2 linked regions of the Homo sapiens genome follow. The protein of the gene in region 1 interacts with the protein of each later gene in a biochemical or structural test. Each region holds a gene or a part of one and is shown on either strand. Other genes may lie near its edges. The genes, in order: IKZF4 and FOXP3.

Region 1 (3,813 bases):
AAAAAAAAAAAAAAAGTAGAGAGTAGAACAGTGGTTACCAGAGGCTGACTGAGAAGGGTTGGGAGTAGGTGGATAGCGAGAGGCTGGTTAATGGGTACAAGATTACAGTTAGATGGGAGGCATAAGTTGTAGTGTTCCACAGCATAGTAGAATGACTGTAGTTAACAATAATTTATTGTATATTTCAAAATCGCTAGAAGAGATTATTTTGAATGTTCCCAATACAAAGAAATGATAAATGTTTGCTGGGCATGGTGGCTCACGCCTGTCATCCTAGCCTTTGGGAGGCTGAGGCAGACAGATCATGAGGTCAGGAGATTGAGACCATCCTGGCTAACATGGTGAAACCCGTCTCTACTAAAAATACAAAAAATTAGCTGGGCATGGTGGTGGGCGCCTGTAGTCCCAGCTACTGGGAGGCTGAGGCAGGAGAATCGCTTGAACCCAGGAGGTAGAGGTTGCAGTGAGCCGAGATCGTGCCACTGCACTCCAGCCTAGGCAACAGAGTAAGACTCTGTCTCCAAAAAAAAGAAGAAAAAAAGATAAATGTTTGAGGTGACAGATATGCCAGTTACCCCAACTTGATCATTACATGTCGTATACATGTATGAAAATATCATATGTATCTCATAAACATGTATAATTATTATGTATCAATTATCAATTAAAATTTGAAAAAAAAGAAAGCGGTTGGAGGATCATTCCTCTCCCAGATGTTAAACTGTTTCCCCAAGGGTCTTTGGGTGGATAGGGACCATGGTGTTCATTTCATCCCTAAAATACAAGAGTTTACAGAGCCTGAGTAAAATCCAGTAGATTGATTTAGTCAAGGCCCAGCTTTGGCATGGCAAGGTTAGGGGTGAATAGTAATTACCAGCTTCCTAGAGATACCTTCTCCTGTCTCCCTGCTCAATAGCAGCAAGATACATCAAATATACAATACGTTGTTTCTCTCCACTTTTTTCTCTCCTCTCACAAATATCTCTTAAGAGTTATCTTTAAATGAAGTACCACTCTGTTTTCCAATTTTCTTTCTTCGGTAGAAACAAGACCTTTATAACCTGTTCCTTATTACAAGCACATAAACAAACAAACCCAAATTTGGTGTTCTCTTTTTTTTACTCTTCTTTATTTTCTTCTCTGTTCTTTTATTCTTTTTCTCTTTTCAGAATTACTCTATCAGTGATGGGCTTTCTAGACCTCTCTTGGTATCTCAGCGTAGAGAGACAGAGAGACAAAATAATCAGTAAACCAGGCTAGGGCTGGAGGTCAAAATACAAGTAAAGGTCAATGAAAACTGCCCCCTCCCCACATTGGCAGATCTAAGGGCTCTCATTTCTGTCATGCCAGCCCACCAGTTTCCCCCAAACCAAAGCAGATAGTTCATAAAAAGCAAAAAATCCCCTTGTCTGATAAACAGCACTTACATCCGCCTGCCAAATGGAAAGGTTAAACCACAGTCTGGGCCCCAGACTCTGAGATCCTGCAGTGGGGCCTGCCTGTCTGCTAGGGATGATCCTCTACAAAGTCCCTGGGTCCTCACTTCCTTTAAGCAACAATTTGGCCATCTTGAACAAACCCACCACCAGTCTGAAGCCACATGCCCTAGGATTCCCTTGCCCCCATAACTGCACATTATCCTTCATCATCAAATATTGTTCATCTGTCCGCGGTTGCAGTTGAAGTTGGGAAATGAAAGACAAGTAGAAGAACTCAATTTAGCAACATCCTTTCCTTCCCATGCCAGTGTATACTTGCTCTTGGCTGAATCTGCAGAGCCAGGGCACAGCGAGAAATAGCTCTGATGCCATCTTTCCACTCTCCTCCACAGTCTCCTCTCCCACAGTGGGCAAGCCCTACAAGTGTAACTACTGTGGCCGGAGCTACAAACAGCAGAGTACCCTGGAGGAGCACAAGGAGCGGTGCCATAACTACCTACAGAGTCTCAGCACTGAAGCCCAAGCTTTGGCTGGCCAACCAGGTAGGGCTATTGATGTACTACTGGGGAGTTAAAAGGGGATGGTGAGAGGGAGTGCTAGACAAGGGTGACTCCAGTATCTCCCACACTGAGGGATGAAGTCTGTGGAACAGGGGATGATTACCCCAGTAAATCTGCCAAACACCCCATTCTAGGTAACCCAGTTGGTGGAGAGCCTTGTCTGTGGTGGGTGCTTTAGGGAGATCGACAGGTAGGGGAAGTTTGGGTCTATATCCTTGGCCTAATGGGAGAGAGAGAACACAAGAAGTATAAAACCAAGGGCCAGATGTGTATGATTGTCCCCAAATGATCTGAAATTTTATTGGAGTGAGCTTTAGGTAGGGTAAACAGAGCCCAGTTTCCCAGGCAACTGGTATGTCCTTCCTTGGCTACTGACCTGCTGGTTTTCTCCAGGCAAAGGCTGTGGGGCCAATGCTACCCCTACTCAACTGCTACTACTGTCTCCACCTTCTTCCCACTAGGTGACGAAATACGTGACCTGGAGATGGTGCCAGACTCCATGCTGCACTCATCCTCTGAGCGGCCAACTTTCATCGATCGTCTGGCCAATAGCCTCACCAAACGCAAGCGTTCCACACCCCAGAAGTTTGTAGGTAAGAATCCAGTTGGAAAGACGTATCAGCTTTAAGCCACAGCTCAAATAAATCTGAGCTGTGTGGTCTGGAGATTCGGTTTGGGGAAAGAAAGCAGTCTGGTGGGCTGGGTGCAGTGGCTCACGTCTGTAATCCCAGCACTTTGGGAGGCCAAGGTGGGCAGATCAAGAGGTCAGAAGATCAAGACCATCCCGGTTAACACAGTGAAACCCCCTCTCTACTAAAAATACAAAAAATTAGCCGGGCGTGGTGGCGGGCACCTGTAGTCCCAGCTACTCGGGAGGCTGAAGCAGGAGAATGGTGTGAACCTGGGAGGCGGAGCTTGCAGTGAGCGGAGATCGCGCCACTGCACTCCATCCATCCTGGGCAACAGAGCAAGACTCCGTCTCAAAAGAAAAAAGAAAAAAGGAAAGAAAGAAAGCAGGCTGGTGGCCTCTGATACTGAAAATCTATCCTCAGGACAGGAGGAAAGTAAAGAGGGAGGATGTACTCAAAGAGAGTGGAGAAGGGTTGGCACTGAAGACTCTCGTGGTGGTTGTAAGGGACAGGGTCGAGGCATCGGGCTGTCTCAGTTTTTTGTTTGTTTGTTTGTTTTTGAGACGGAGTCTTGCTCTGTCGCCCAGGCTAGAATGCAGTGGCACGATCTCGGCTCACTGCAACCTCTGTCTCCCAGGTTCACGCCATTCTCCTGCCTCAGCCTCCCGAGTAGCTGGGACTACAGACGCCTGCCACCATGCCCGGCTAATTTTTTTTGTATTTTTAGTAGAGACGGGGTTTCACCGTGTTAGCCAGGATGGTCTTAATCTCCTGACCTCATGATCTGCCCGCCTCAGCCTCCCAAAGTGCTGGGATTACAGGCGTGAGCCACCGCGCCCGGCCCGGGCTATCTCAGTTTTTAAGAATAACAAGAACTTCAGTCTGTGTGGGCCCTTAGAGAGTCAGAGAGAGGAAATAAGTATGTGGTTCCCCCTATCCCCAGCACTAGTCATGAGCTCTCTAAGGACCTGGAGCTTTATGGAGAGTAATAAAATGAAGTATTAAAAATCAATGGGCTGGGATTGAGTCCTTCTCTAAGATTATAGCCTAGAGTCAGGGAGCAGTCCCACAAAGGACCTGACCCTGCGAAAGTAAATGCCACGTAGTAAATAATGTTACACCCAGCCCCACAGGTAAAAAAACAAAGAAGTAATCCTGAGGAGAGTGTAGGAATTCTCCAAACCC
Region 2 (3,813 bases), on another chromosome or scaffold:
CCTCTTCTCTTGTCACATGGGGATGGGGACACATAGCTATGCTCATGGGACTACAATACGGCCTCCTCCTCTCCTGAGACAGGGATTGGGAGGTCGGGGAGAGCCTCCAATCTCTGAGGCCTGGCAGGTGGGGATTTTCTTGGCCCTGCAACATCTGCATAAGTCACAGACTTGCCTGGGACCCAGAAACCACTTCCTGTGCCCCAGCCAGCCCCCCTCCCGCCCAGTGCCACAGTAAAGGTCGGCACCTGTAGGTCCAGGTACCCCACCCTGCCTGCCCCATCCTGGGCCCAGGGCCTCACCTGCAGCTGCGATGGTGGCATGGGGTTCAAGGAAGAAGAGGAGGCATGGGCCCCGCCTCGAAGATCTCGGCCCTGGAAGGTTCCCCCTGGGCCCCGGGCCCCCAGCAGGTCTGAGGCTTTGGGTGCAGCCCTCCAGCTGGGCGAGGCTCCTGGGGATGGGCCAAGGGCCAAGGAAGGGGCCGAGGGCTTGCCAGGCCTGGGGTTGGGCATCGGGTCCTTGTCCAAGGGCAGGCTGCGTAGACAATAGGGGAAAGGAGTCACACGTGTGCTAGGGCGGTATGAGATACTCGACCACCTGAGCCACGTGGACACTCCTCTGGTCAAAGCAGGCATTGGCTGGGACATGTCCCGAGGGGCCCCATAGTTGCACCCCAGCTCTAGACACACACACACACACACACACACACACACACCAAGAACACAGGTACATGTACATACCCACACATGCCCCACGTGCAGAGGTCCAGCACCTGGCTTGCCTGCCCACGCTAGCACAGCCCTGGTGTGGATGTGTCCTCTATGAGGGCAATGGTTGTTTCCCCCTCCACTTGAGAGCTGTTTCAAGCCTCAGGCCTCTAGCCCTCCCTGCACCCTGCACAGGCTGTGTTTGCTCATCTTGCCGGAGCTGGTCTCGGACTTTCTCCTCGGAGTCCTATTTTGCCCCAGTGACTAGGCATGGACTCAAAAGATTCATCTGGCTGCTGTGAGTGGGGCTAGTGAGGAGGCTATTGTAACAGTCCTGGCAAGTGATGATGCTGGCACAGAATGGGCTGGTGGCAGTGGAGAAGGCGAGAAGTGGGTAGATTCTGAGACTTAATCTGAAGCTGGATCAGGAGCAGTGCTAGCAGCTTGGATGTAGTGGGCAAGAGGGAGAGTCAAAGTGACATGGGTTTTAGCTTGAGCAGCTGGAAGGACCGAGCTGACATTACCTGAGATGGGGGACATGGCGGGGAGTTGGATTGGGTGCAAAAGTGCAGGTGTAGATAGACATGAAGAGTCTGGCATTAAATATGTGAGTGGAGGAGCTGAGGGGGCAGCTGAATACGGGGGTCTGGATCTCAGGGCAAGGAGGCGAGTCCAGGAGTGTGATCATGCACGGATCCAGCATGGCAAGTGACAGAGAGGAGGAGAGATGGGGTCTCTTGAGCTGGGGCCTGTAGAAGCTTCTCTACCCAGCCCCCATCAGAGTTCACCCCAATTTCTGGCCCTCAAGCCTGGCTCATGCTACACCCCCTGCCTCAAATGCCCACTCCTTCTCCTCTTTCCCTGTCCAAGCCACGCAAGACCTGCTCTTCTATTGTCCTCACCTTGAAAGCCCTCCACAATGGCTCCGGGCCCCCTGCTGAGCCCCAGAACCTTCCACTCCCTGAGGGAAGCACTGGCTTTTCAGGATCCTATAATCCTGGTCTGAGAGGAAGCCAGAGCTGGAAGGGACTGCCCAGCCAACCCCATTATACAGAAGGGGATGCTCAGATGCCGAGTTCCGTAGTCCCATAGTGACTTGAGAACTCCACTTCTTTCTTTAGGAAGTGTTTCCGTGTGCACATTTTATAAACTCTCTGGTGTGTGTGTGTGTGTGTCTCCATCTCCCCGTTCCACCTCACAGCACTGAGTTGGGCACACAGCTGCTGAGAGCAGCCCGGGGGAGTATAGAAGGGTTCTGGGGGAGCAGTTGCTCCTTCCTTTCTTTGCTGTCACCTCCTGGGGGTGGTTGTCAGAGCTGTGGTGCTGAGGGAGATGAGTGTGAGAATCCAGGTATTAAGTTCTTAGTCTCCTGGGGGCTTAGAACATTACTGCGTGAGAAACAGGAGTGTGGGTCTGTGGAGGCTCCGAACAAGGGCCTGGGAGAGCACTGGTGAGATGAGAAGGTGAGTGAATGAATGAAGCCAGAGATGGGGTGATGCTCCTTCAAGCCAAGAAATAACAAAGATTGCCAGCAACCACCAGAAGCTGGGGGAGAGGCCTGGAGCAGCTTCTCCCTTATGGCCCCCAGAAGGAACCAACCCTGGCAACACCTTGATCTTGGACTCTGGCCTCCAGAACTGTGAGATGATCAATTTCTGTTGCTGAAGCCACTCAGTTGTGGTACTTTGTTATAGCAGCCAGAACAAACTAATACCGATTTCGGTGCAAATGGATGTTTTCCACCACTCTGGCCTGGCCCATGTGGCTGGCCTGTGGTCACTTCTGAAGCTGCCTGGACACTTGGCCAGAGCTAAGAATTCTCCCCAAACACATGTGGGATGGCCTGACTCAGCAAAGCATAGATACATTCTCAGACAGGGACATGGAGATGATCTGTCTGGGGGTAGAGGACCTAGAGGGCCGGGCTGGGCAGCCGGCTTCCTGCACTGTCTGTTGGGACGTCCCTTTCTGACTGGGTTTCTCAGAAGCTGAATGGGGGATGTTTCTGGGACACAGATTATGTTTTCATATCGGGGTCTGCATCTGGGCCCTGTTGTCACAGCCCCCGACTTGCCCAGATTTTTCCGCCATTGACGTCATGGCGGCCGGATGCGCCGGGCTTCATCGACACCACGGAGGAAGAGAAGAGGGCAGATACCCCACCCCACAGGTTTCGTTCCGAGAACTGGCTGCCCTGTCCTGCAGCAGGCTTGGCCCAGGTGGGGTGACATGGGTGCTGGTGGATGTGGTAGGTGATGTCCATCTGGCCACTATGACAAGCCCCTAGCTCTGAAGACCTGGCCCTTCTTGGGTTGTGGAGAGGACCCAGGTTTGAAGCTCTGAGAGTGCCAGGCAGGCTCCACAGATACTGGGACCCCTGGGGTCTTCAAATAGTATAACACCAGGACCTCAGAATCATAGAACAGCATTTCTTAGATTTAAAGGATCCTAGAATCTCAAAACCACAGACTGTGGGGTCTACGGTCCCAAAGTCTCAGTATGTGTAGGCCAGTGTCCCTGGTGTCCAAACTCCTTGGAACCATCTGAAAGTCAGGCAGCTTGCTGCTTCATAGGGCCTCTTGCCTACCAGGCCTGGAAACAGAGCCAGCCTCCCTAGGGCCTCAGTCTCCCTGTCCACTCTGGAACAACGTTCCCAAATACATGGCCACTCCGCCAGAGATGGCAACAGGGGGAGGAGGAGGTTGAGGCTGGTGTGCCTTTGGTCTGGGCCTCATGGGGGGAGCTGGAAAAGCCTCAGCCTTCGCCAATACAGAGCCCATCATCAGACTCTCTAGAGGGGCCCCACAATCAAGGTTTTCGGGGACCAGCACCAGCTCTGGGGACACACAGCCTGACTGACTGACATGCCTCCATCATCACCACGCTCTGGCCAACTAGGCCTCCTGACCTATGGAGTCCGGGGCCTCACCTAGCCCAGCTCTTGTGAGGCTGGGCCCCACACTGTGATCGTGGATCGTCCAACCTGTGGGAAGTTGGGGTCCAACGTGTGAGAAGGCAGAAGGGGGAATGGTAGCCCAGGTTCCCCTTCCCCCTTCTGGGTGCTGAGGGGTAAACTGAGGCCTGCAGTTGGGGAGAGAGCCAGAAC

Evidence for each region.
Region 2: the proteins of IKZF4 (region 1) and FOXP3 form a complex in vitro, tested with the Homo sapiens proteins (one study listed by BioGRID).

Annotation. Positions count from the first base shown.
Region 1 is NC_000012.12:56,030,730-56,034,542, forward strand, and holds part of IKZF4 (zinc finger protein Eos), read left to right. Parts: intron 1-1,831; coding exon 1,832-1,981; intron 1,982-2,460; coding exon 2,461-2,592; intron 2,593-3,813. UniProt on the Homo sapiens protein: DNA-binding protein that binds to the 5'GGGAATRCC-3' Ikaros-binding sequence. Transcriptional repressor. Interacts with SPI1 and MITF to repress transcription of the CTSK and ACP5 promoters via recruitment of corepressors SIN3A and CTBP2.
Region 2 is NC_000023.11:49,257,994-49,261,806, forward strand, and holds part of FOXP3 (forkhead box protein P3), read right to left. Parts: intron 535-3,813; 5' UTR 513-534; coding exon 303-512; intron 1-302. UniProt on the Homo sapiens protein: Transcriptional regulator which is crucial for the development and inhibitory function of regulatory T-cells (Treg).